Regions from separate parts of the Homo sapiens genome. Here region 1 is linked to region 2. Evidence: fine-mapped expression QTL. A gene starts in region 2. The other region holds a variant in brackets. All regions are shown on one strand. Distances are from middle to middle. Region 1 overlaps CADM4 (cell adhesion molecule 4). Region 2 holds the start of XRCC1 (X-ray repair cross complementing 1).

Region 1 (5,000 bases), 54 kb before region 2:
CTCTTTTTTTTTTTTTTTTTTTTGAGACAGAGTCTCTCTCTGTCACCCAGGTTGGGGTGCAGTGGCTCAATCTCGGCTCACTGCAACCTCTGCCTCCTGGGTTCAAGCAATTCTGCCTCAGCCTCCTGAGTAGCCCGGGCTACCACTGCCTAGCTAATTTTTGTATTTTTTTAGTAGAGACGGGGTTTCGCCACGTTGGCCAGGCTGGTCTTGAACTCCTGACCTGAGGTGATCTGCCCGCCTTGGCCTCTCAAAAGTGCTGGTATTACAGGCGTGAGCCACCGCACTGGGCTGACTTTGTCTCTTAAAAGAAAAGAAAGTGTTCTAAAGGTGAAGGGATGAGCAGTGAGGGAAGGCCTCTCTGAGAAGGTACTGATATGATTTGAGACCCAAATGGGAACAGGAGTCAGCCCTGGGAAGATGGGGCTTGGGAGGTGGGGAGAAGAACATTCCAGGCAGAAGGAAGAAAAGGGAAAAGGCCCTGTGGTGGGAGCGAGCTCAGCATGTTTGAGGGACAGCAAGGCTAGCGAGCCCAGAGTGAAGTAAGGTCAGCAAGGGGCCAGGCCATATAGCACCTTGAAGTCCCCGGGAAGGGGTCTCTATTTTATTCTACATGTTACGGGCAGCCCTCGGAGGGTTTTAAGCAGAAAGGTGAATTGATCTGATTTACCTCTTTGAAAAATCGATCCGGCCACTGGGTGGAGAATGGCCCTGGAGGAGGCAGACAGGGATGCAGACAGACCCACGAGTAGGCTTTTGCAGAGTCCAGGTGAGGGATGATGCTGGATGAGAGTGAGGGTAGGAGAGGCAGACAAAGGTGATGAGATCTGGGATATGTCTTGGAGGTAGAATGGACAGATGTTGCTGATGGAATGGATATTGGGGATGAGGGAAAGGGAGAGAACTTGAATGATTTCTAGGTTTTTGACCTGAGCAACCAGGTGGATGGTGGTGACATTTATTGAGATTGAGAAAATTTGGGGAGGAAAATATCTGGGGCAAGGATTGGACATGTTAAGCTTGATATTCCAGGAGGTGCTAGAAAAACCTCAAACAGTGGCTGAAATACCCAAAGTGCTATAGTTTCAGCTACTCATGAAGCTGAGGCAGGAGGACTGCTTGAGCATAAGAGTTTGAGTCCAGCCTAGGCAACATAGTGAGACCTCATCTCTAAAATAAATTAAAAAAATAAAAATACCCAAAGCGTTACACTAAAACATAAAAGAAGTCCAGAACTAGGAGTTGAGGGCTGTTACAGCAGCTCCACATCTTCACCAGAGACTCAGGCACCTTCCAGCTCTTGGTTCCGCCATCCCCACTGCTCTTGTCCTCATGGTTCAATATGGCTGCCTAAATTCCACGCGTCACACTGTTAGTTCCAGGTGGCACAAAGGTGACTCAGTAGAAAAAGGGTTTGTCCACCTGTTTCAGGAAGTCCTCCCAAAATTGTCACGCAACATTTTGGCTTATATCCAACTGGACAAAATTTTATCAGATGGCTTTACCTTGCTGCAAGGAGACTGAGGAATGCCTTTTTCTGCTGGACATAGTGCAACCATAAAATACAACCAGTGTTCTTTTCTTTTACTGAGGAGAAAGGGAAAAATGGATGTCAGAATAGGAAGCCAGAAGTCTCTGTCTCCATCCCCCAGAAATAATCTTTTCTACCCCTCAACTTCCAAATTAGGTTACCTACCCTCTTACAGAAAACATAACACTTTCTTTTATTTATTTCTTTTTTTTTTTTCTTTTTTGAAACGGAGTCTTGCTCTGTCACCCAGGCTGGACTGCAGTGGCGCGATCTTGGCTCACTGCAACCTCTGCCTCCCAGGTTCAAGCGATTCTTATGCCTCAGCCTCCTGAGTAGCTGGAATTACAAGCACCCACCACCACACCTGGCTAATTTTTGTATTTTTAGTACAGACGGGGTTTCACCATGTTGGTCAGGCTGGTCTCGAACTCCTGACCTTGTGATCCGCCCACCTCGGCCTCCCAAAGTGCTGGGATTACAGGTGTGAGCCACCGTGCCCAGCCACATAACACTTTTGATTACCGTGATTGGTTCCTACCTTCCCATAAATCTTAAAGGGCAGGGACCTCATCTAACTCATCTCTGACTACTCAGCCCCTGAAAACCTACGTGATGCTCAGGAAATACTCCTGAATGAATGCAACCCAGCACCTGAATGTAAAAGACATGGATAGTTATCCAGCACTTAAAGACAAATAGCCAGATCTAATCATGGCATATTCCTGCTTCAAAACCTTCACTGGCCCTTAGGATGAAAGCAAATCTCCTAGGTTGGCATTCGAGGCCCATCACAAGCGGCTCTCACAACCCCCTGCCAATGATGGACACTTAATCCAGACAGCCAGGAGTGGATATACAGATTCAGGATACAGAATCAGAGATTTGGACGAAGATTTTGGCACTGCCACTCTTGGCTGTGAACTTGGGCAAGTCATTTCATCTCTGTGGGCCAATTTTCTCACCTATAAAATGGGAATGGGAGCAGGACACGATAGCTCAAGCCTGTAATCCCAGCACTTTGGGAGGCCGAGGCGGGTGGATCACGAGGTCAGGAGTTCCAGACCAGCCTGGCCAAGATGGTGAGACCCCGTCTTTACTAAAAACACAAAGATTAGCCAAGTGCAGTG[G/T]CAGGTGCCTATAATCCCAGCTACTTGGGAGGCTGAGGCAGGAGAATTGCTTGAACCCGGGAAGTGGAGGTTGCAGTGAGCCGAGATCGTACCACTGCACTCTAGCCTGGGCGACAGAGCAAGACAATGTCTCAAAAAAAAAAAAAAAAAAAAAAGAAAAGAAAAATGGAAATGGGGGAAAATGGGGATAATAGTAGCGCAGGCCGGGCAAAATGGGGATAATAATAGCGCAGGCCGGGCACAGTGGCTCATGCCTGTAATCCCAGCACTTTGGGAGGCCGAAGCAGGCAGTTCACTTGAGCTCGCAAGTTCAAGACCAGCCTGGGCAACACGGTGAAACTCCGTCTCTAAAAAAATACAAAAGTTAGCCAGGTGTGATGTTGTGCACCTGTAGTTCCAGCTACTGGGGAGGCTGAGGTGGGATCACTCGAGCCTGGGAGGCAGACATTGCAGTGAGCTGAGATCGTGCCACTGCACTCCAGCCTGACCTTGTCTCAAATTAAAAATAATAATAATAATTGGCCAGGCGCGGTGGGTCGCACCTGTAATCCCTGGACTTTGGGAGGCTGAGGCAGGCGGATCACTTGAGGCCAGGAGTTCGAGACCAGCCAGGCCAATATGGCTAAACTCTGTCTCTACTAAAAATAAAAATTAGCCCGGCATGGTGGTGCATGCCTGTAATTCCAGCTACTTGGGAGGCTGAGGCTGAAGAATCGCTTGAACTTGGGAGGTGGAGGTTTCAATGAGCTGAGATCACACCACTGCACTCCAGCCTGGGCAACAGAGCAATACTCTGTCCCAAAATAATAATAATAATGATAATAATCATGTCTACCTTACACAGGGATTGTGAGGATTAAAGGTAAGTTATATGGGTAATGCCCTTAGCACAGGGACTAACACTGCAAGTACCTAATAATTGGTAGCTATGGGGGTTATTGTTATTTTGAAGACAACAGATGATGATATTAATGCTGATGATTAGTCTTGGCTTTCAGCTTTCCTAAATGCTTTTCTCTGATGGTTCTAGATTCCCCACCTTGTTTTTCTGATGGATTAATCAGGGTAGGTTAAAGGCTGTAACAGACACCCCTGAAATCTCAATGGCTTAACAAAAAGGTATATTTCTTGCTCATATCACAGTCCTATACAGGCGGGTCATGGGGGACAGTCAGTTAGAGACCCAGGTTCCTTCTGGCTTGTGATTCTGCCCTCCTCTAGGCTCCTTGGAGTCCTCTCTGTTCAGCCAGTGTGAAGGATTATGAGGGAGATGGGTCAGGCTGCAAGAGGTGTTTCTCTTCCACCTACATCCCATTGGCCAGAATTGGTCACATGGCCCCACCTAACTATAAAGGATGCTGGGAAGTATAGCCTAATTATGTATTGTATCAGTTAACTTTAGCAGTAGAACAGATCACCCACAACTTAGGAGCTTAAAACAACCACCACCTTATTTGTTCATGATTCTGGGGTTCAGCAGTTTGGGCTGTATCAGATGGGCAGATCTTTTATTGGTCTCAACTGGGGTCACTTGTGTGGCTGCTGTCAGCTGGTGGGGCAGCTGGGGCTGGATGATCCAGGATGGCCACACTCACACAGCTGGCGATTGGTGCTGGCTGCCGGCTGGGCTTCTCTTTCACCATGATTGTTCATCTGCAAAGACACTAGTCTGGGTATCTTCATGCAACAGTCTTAGGGCAGGAGTGGAAGCTACAAGGCCTCTTCAGGCCTAGGCTCAATATCACTTCTAGCAAATTCTATTGGTCAAAGCAACTCTCAAGGCTTACCCAGACTAGTAGGGGACAAAGTGCCTTCTCAATGGGAGGAATGGCAAAATCAACTTGCAAAGGGCATGTCCAGGGACAGGAGAATATTACGGCTATCTTTGCAAACGGGCTACAACATGTGCCCAGGTGTGAAAGATGAGGCTTGGTGAACACACAGCAGTCTCCCACACCTTGTGAACTCCTGCTTACTCTTTTTTTTCTTTCTTTTTTTTTTTGAGACAGAGTCTCGCTCTGTCGCCCAGCCTGGAGTGCAGTGGCTCCATCTCGGCTCACTGCAACTTCCAACTCCCGGGTTCAAGCGATTCCCCTGCCTCAGCCTCCCGAGTAGCTGGGACTACAGGTGCGCACCACCACACCCAGCTAATTTTTTTTTTTTTTTTGTATTTTTAGTAGTGACAGGGTTTCACCATGTTGGCCAGGATGGTCTCTATCTCTTGACCTTGCGATCCGCCCACCTCGGCCTCTCAAAGTGCTGGGATTACAGGCATGAGCCACCGCGCTCAGCCTCCTGCTTACTCTTTAAGATCCAGATCCAATGGAGCTTTCTTGCAGAGC
Region 2 (5,516 bases):
ATTTCTGTTCCCTCCATCTCATGATGGTCTTTCCCTCTTTCCTGCTCTCCACTGATTTCTTCCCACGCTCCCGTCTTGAGAACCATGATGATCCCCCCTCAGCATGGTAGTCTCTTCCACCCTGAAGGTACACCCCACCTCCCCACCAGGTCCCAGGCCACATCCTCTTACTTGAAGTAGCCTTCCCGACCAGGAGCACACATGTGTCCTTGTCACTGCTGCAGGTCTTCATTTGGCCATGGCACCTGCTCCCCGCCGCCGTACATATTTCGCAGTGTAGTGGGCACCCTGCAGTGTAGACAGAGGGCGAGGCTGTAGTCATGGGTGGTGTGGTCTTCGGACCACGACTTTGACTTAGGACTTTTGTGTCCTGAGAGAGGAGGGACCAGCAGCTCCCTGGTTTTTCATGGGCGGGATGTTGACCACTGCCCAAGGAACTGTCCAGAGTTGGACGAAGAAGCAGTGGTGATGCCAGCAAAGCTGCTTCCAGGGGCGGGAAGCGACTCCACCATGAAGCCTGTTTGCCTAATTACATGGCTGGGGATTTTGGATGCCAGGGTCCGCTGAGAAAGCTCAGGGGCAGGGAGGGGTCGTGATGGAGGTTTCCATGGACTTTTGTGAAACTTCAGGTCCAGCTGGTTCTTGAATGTGGGATTCTCCTCCTTGAAGGTGCCATGTAGGTCTTGTAGACAGCAGGAGCTCAGGCAGGGGGCCCTGAGGCTAGGGTCTGCATCCCAGGTCAAGGAGGGAGAGTGAGGACCAGGAGGGCAGAGGACTTGAACTTCTTGGTTCTGAGAGAGGGGACAGCTAGGGGCCCAGAAACCTGGGTCCTGGGGAAAGTGAGGCTTACTTGGACTCCTGTGTGCAGGGGAGGAGGGGGCTGGGGCCTGAACTTCTTAGTCTAAGGAGAAAGGAAATCTCTCTACCTCTTTTAAAAAAATATATCATATGATATTAATGTATTTTTTTTGAGATGGAGTTTTGCTCTGTCACCCAGGCTGGGGAGTGCAGTGGCACGATCTTGGCTCACTGCAACCTTTGCCTCCCAGTTTCAAGCAATCCTCTCACCTCAGCCTCCCAAGTAGCTAGGATTACAGGCGCCCACCACCAAGCTCAGCTAACTTTTTTTGTATTTTTAGTAAAGACGGGGTTTCACCATGTTGGCCAGGCTGGTCTTGAACTCCTGACCTCAAGTGATCCACCTGCCTCGGCCTCTTAAAGTGCTGGGGTTACAGGCATGAGCCACCGCACCTGGCCTTCTCCCTCTTTTTTTTTTTTTAATTATATTTTTAAAGATTTCCCTTTCCAGCCATGCTCTCATCTGATTTCCTAGAATTGAGATGTGTTTGGGATCCTTCCTGGAGGATGGAGGATTCAGAGCCCACCAAGCCCCTCTCTCAGGGATCCAATCACAGGAGCTTTTCTTCTCTGGGACCCCCAGGCTTTCTCTTCCTTTACCCTTGGCCTCTTCCATGAATCTGAATTTCCAGAATGCCTCCCCGTTCACCTTGAGGACTTGCTGAAGGCTCTTTCTCTCTCTATATCTCTCTCTCTCTCAATCTGGGACCTCTCTCTTCCTGAGGTCCCAGAGACAGTTCAGGTCCCTTGTCACTTACCAAGACCCAGGAGGGTGCAGAGCAACACAAAGGCCAGCAGAAAGGTCTCTGGTCTCCTGGAGAGCCTCATGGTGTGTGTATCAGCAGTACCTGGTCCCCAGCTTTTATAGGAAGCTGAGGAGGGGTGGGTCTGGACCCACATTCACCCTACGGGGAGAAATAGCTGAGGTCAGAACCCAGGGCAGTCCTCTGTGGCCTCCGGGTTGGGAAGGCAGAACCAGAATCCAAAAGTGACCTGGGCATCTTGTGCCCAGCCCCCCACCTCCATGGAGACCCCAGGAGTCTGGGCTTCCATCCCCCTCTTCTATTAGAACCCAGAAAGTCACCACCCTGTTTTCTCACCTTCCCACGGCCCATTGTTGTTTGTTTGTTTGCTTGAAGACCAAGACGGAGTTGGGCCTCTTGATTCCCAGTGGCTGCAAGAACTGGGATTCCCTCTCCTTCTCTCTCTTCCCCTCTCCTCCCAAGGAAGCACCCAGTGTGGGTAGGGCCCCACCTTGGAGCACCCAGCATGTCCAGGCTGGTCCTGCGGGTGCGGGGTGCCTTGTCTCCCTTCCCCTCTCTTCATGTGCTCGGCTCACACTCCTTGTGTGTTTGGGCTGTCTCCAGCTGCGACCCCACCCAGGGCTGCACCCTTGGGTCTCCAAGGCACCGAATGAACAGAGGGATGTCTGTCGGCAGTCATAGGCGGGCGTAGTAAAAGACAGATGCCCACAGTCCACATATTGGGAAACTGAGGCTTTTGTGGAAGAACTCCAGGATAGGGGTGTGTGTGTGTGTGTGTGGTGGGGGTTGGGCACATGCTTTGTGTTATATTTAGGACGCAGAACCCTTCTCTTTTGGCCTCAGGCATAAGGCTGAAAGAGATCTGCTAATTTTTTTCGCGCGTGCGCGCGCGCGTATGTATGTATATGTGCGTGTGTGTGTGTGTGGCAAGGGGACAGAGAGAAGAGTGCAGCCGCCTGAGCCATTTGAAGAGATCCTGTTGCGTAGAATCCAGGTTCCCTACGAAACTACGAAAATTCACTCAGATTTGCTGTCCTAGCCCAGCGCAGTCGCTCACGCCTGTAGTTCCAGCACTTTGAGAGGCCGAGGCAGGTGGATCGCTTGAGCTGAGGAGTTCGAGACCAGTCTGGGCAACATGGCAAGACCCGCCGCCCTCTCACCCCATGTCTCCACAAAAAATACAAAAATTAGCCGAATGTGGTGGCGCGTGCGTGTAATCCCAGCTACTTAGGAGGCTGAAGTGGGAGGATCCCTTGGCCCCAGGAGACAGGGGTTGCAGAAAGCCGAGATCGTGCCACTGCACTCCATCCTGGGTGAGAGAGCAAGACCCTGTCTCAACAAAAAATTTTTAAAAAATAAAATAAATAATAATACAGCAAAAAGATTTGCTTTCTCGGCTTCAGTGTGGGCGGTAACTCCATCGTGCAATGAGAAAGGCGAATTTCTTCCAGACACCAATCCCGGAGGTCGCTTCTGTTGCTAGGCTCCCAGAAAGCAGGGTTCGGACGTCATTGGGAGGCGAGGCTAGAGCGGGGTTGTGTGTGGCGGAGGGAGGCGGGGCTGGAGGAAACGCTCGTTGCTAAGGAACGCAGCGCTCTTCCCGCTCTGGAGAGGCGCGACTGGGCTTGCGCAGTGTCGACGCCGGCGCCGGCGCGCCGGGGTTTGAAAGGCCCGAGCCTCGCGCGCTTGCGCACTTTAGCCAGCGCAGGGCGCACCCCGCCCCCTCCCACTCTCCCTGCCCCTCGGACCCCATACTCTACCTCATCCTTCTGGCCAGGCGAAGCCCACGACGTTGACATGCCGGAGATCCGCCTCCGCCATGTCGTGTCCTGCAGCAGCCAGGACTCGGTGAGGGACCTGCATGGGGGAGGTTGGAAGACGTGAGGGAATTAATGAGGATAGCTCTTAAAAGAGCTTTTGGGGTTCTCTTGGAAGTCTAAGGAGAGTCATGGGGGGATTTCCAGGAGGCTAAAAGTGAATTGTGGAGAGATGTTGAATTAGGGACGTTCCGGCGTCTAGGGAACTTCCGGAGAGAAAAGGAGGAATAGGGAAGCTTTCTTGGAGAGCCCATAGGTGAACTTCCACGGGAAAGTGTTGTAGGGGAAACTCCAGGCAGAGTGTCGGGGGATTAACGGGAGAGCTTAAATCTGGGGGTCGTAGAGGCCTTGGGAGGACTCAAAGGAATCATCTGAGAGCTGGAGGCCTAGCTGTCATCTCTGTGCCCTAATTCTCCTCTCCCACTGTTGTTTCCAGACTCACTGTGCAGAAAATCTTCTCAAGGCAGACACTTACCGAAAATGGCGGGCAGCCAAGGCAGGCGAGAAGACCATCTCTGTGGTCCTACAGGTGATCCTGCCACCCCACCTCCTCCTCACTAGGAGTCTGGAGTCCGGGGTTCCAGATTCTGCTCCTGAGCCAACTGGCAGTGGGTTTAGTCACTTTCTTTGCTGGGCCTCAGCTTCCTTACTCGGAAAATGGGCAGCATAATCCCTGTGCCCCTCAGCAGAGAGGAAAGGAGACCCAAGGATTAAGTCCAGGATGACCACAGGAATCAGTGTGTGGTCCTGGGCAGGTGGCATCTACTTTCTGGGTTCCAGTTTCCTCAGCTGGAACAAAATGAATCATTGCCACGTACTCTGCCTCCTGCAGCCAGTGGGCTCAGGGCTGGAAGGTGTCCAGGAAGGTCGTCTAAGCCAATCAACTCCACTTTAAAGAAGGGGAAACTGGCCGGATGCCGTGGCTCATGCCTGTAAACCCAGCACTTTCAGAGCCTGAGATGGGAGGATTGCTTGAGCTCAGGAGTTCCAGACCAGCCTGGGCAACATATCAAGACCCTGTCTCTATTTTTATTAAAATAAATAATTTTTTTTAAAGAATAATAGCCAGGTATGGTGGTTCACACCTGTAATCCCATCACTTTGGGAGGCCGAAGCTGGAGTATTGCATGAGCCCAGGAGTTTGAGACCAGCCTGGGCAATACAGTAAGATGTCATCTCTACCAAAATTTTATAGATTAGCTGAGTATGGTGGTGTGCACCTGCAATCCCAGCTACTGGCGAGTCTGAGGTGAGAGAATTGCTTGAGCCCAGGAGATGGAGGCTGCAGTGAGCTGAGATTGTGCCACTGCACTCCAGCCTGGGCACCAGAGTGAGACCCCCAAAATATAAAAAATAAAATAATAATAATGAGAGCTGGCATTATTCAACGTTACCTGTCAGTCGCTGCTCTACACACCTCACTCACATGGATTAGCTCATTGAGTCCTCATAAAAAACCCCAAGAGGCAGGCTCTGTTATCCCCACTTTTACAGATGAGGAAACTGAGGCCCAAAGAAGTTATACAATTTGCCTGACAGTCAATCTTTTATTTATCTGTTGAGACAGAGTCTCACTCTGTTCCCAGGCTGTAGTGCAGTGGCATGATCTTGGCTTGGCTCACTGCAGCCTCTACCTCCTGGGCTCAAGCGATCCTCCCACCTCAGCCTCCTGAGTAGCTGGGACTGCAGGTGTGCACCACCATGCCTGGCTAGTTTTTTTTGTATTTTTTTAGAGATGGGGTTTCCACCATGTTGCCAGGCTGGTCTCAAACTCCTGGGCTCAAGCGTTCCTCCTGCTTCAGCCTCCCAAAGTGCTCGGATGACAGGCATGAACCATTGTTCCTGGCCTGGGGGCTGCTTTATGACTATAAGGAGCAGAACACTCTGTGGATAGTGCTAGGGTGACGGAAAAATTAACCTTTTGTGAATGGGCAGTCATTCAGCAAATATCCACTCCTCTCCCTCCCACTGGAGGGGGAGTATATTTCCCTGCTCCATTGATGAGTTTGACCATATGATTTACTTAATGGAATTTCAGCACATCTAACTTCAGCAAGGGCCTTAAATGCACTTGGCT

What was found. PIP is the estimated chance that this variant, and not a neighbour inherited with it, causes the effect. A credible set is the group of variants that fine-mapping cannot tell apart.
Region 1: its variant is the best candidate, but not a certain one, in a credible set for the expression of XRCC1 in whole blood (TOPMed, PIP 0.76).

Annotation. Positions count from the first base shown.
Region 1 is chr19:43,628,095-43,633,094 of GRCh38, reverse strand. All of the region lies in intron 1 of CADM4 (cell adhesion molecule 4), which reads left to right. It overlaps LOC105372411 (a long non-coding RNA gene), which reads right to left. Exons shown (of 4, transcript XR_001753942.2): 2 at 4,108-4,311; 3 at 671-1,587. Among named protein-coding and RNA genes, the nearest start is that of CADM4, 9.3 kb to the left of the region's middle. The variant G/T (reference allele first, on the strand shown) is at 2,659.
Region 2 is chr19:43,573,362-43,578,877 of GRCh38, reverse strand. It overlaps XRCC1 (X-ray repair cross complementing 1), which reads left to right and starts at 3,351. Exons shown (of 17, transcript NM_006297.3): 1 at 3,351-3,470; 2 at 3,876-3,968. The coding sequence starts at 3,420. PINLYP (phospholipase A2 inhibitor and LY6/PLAUR domain containing) reads right to left here and starts at 3,077. Exons shown (of 6, transcript NM_001193621.3): 1 at 1,959-3,077; 2 at 1,617-1,763; 3 at 172-288. The coding sequence starts at 1,686. RefSeq lists enhancers at 1,925-2,450, 2,451-2,977, 2,978-3,137 and a silencer at 3,238-3,397.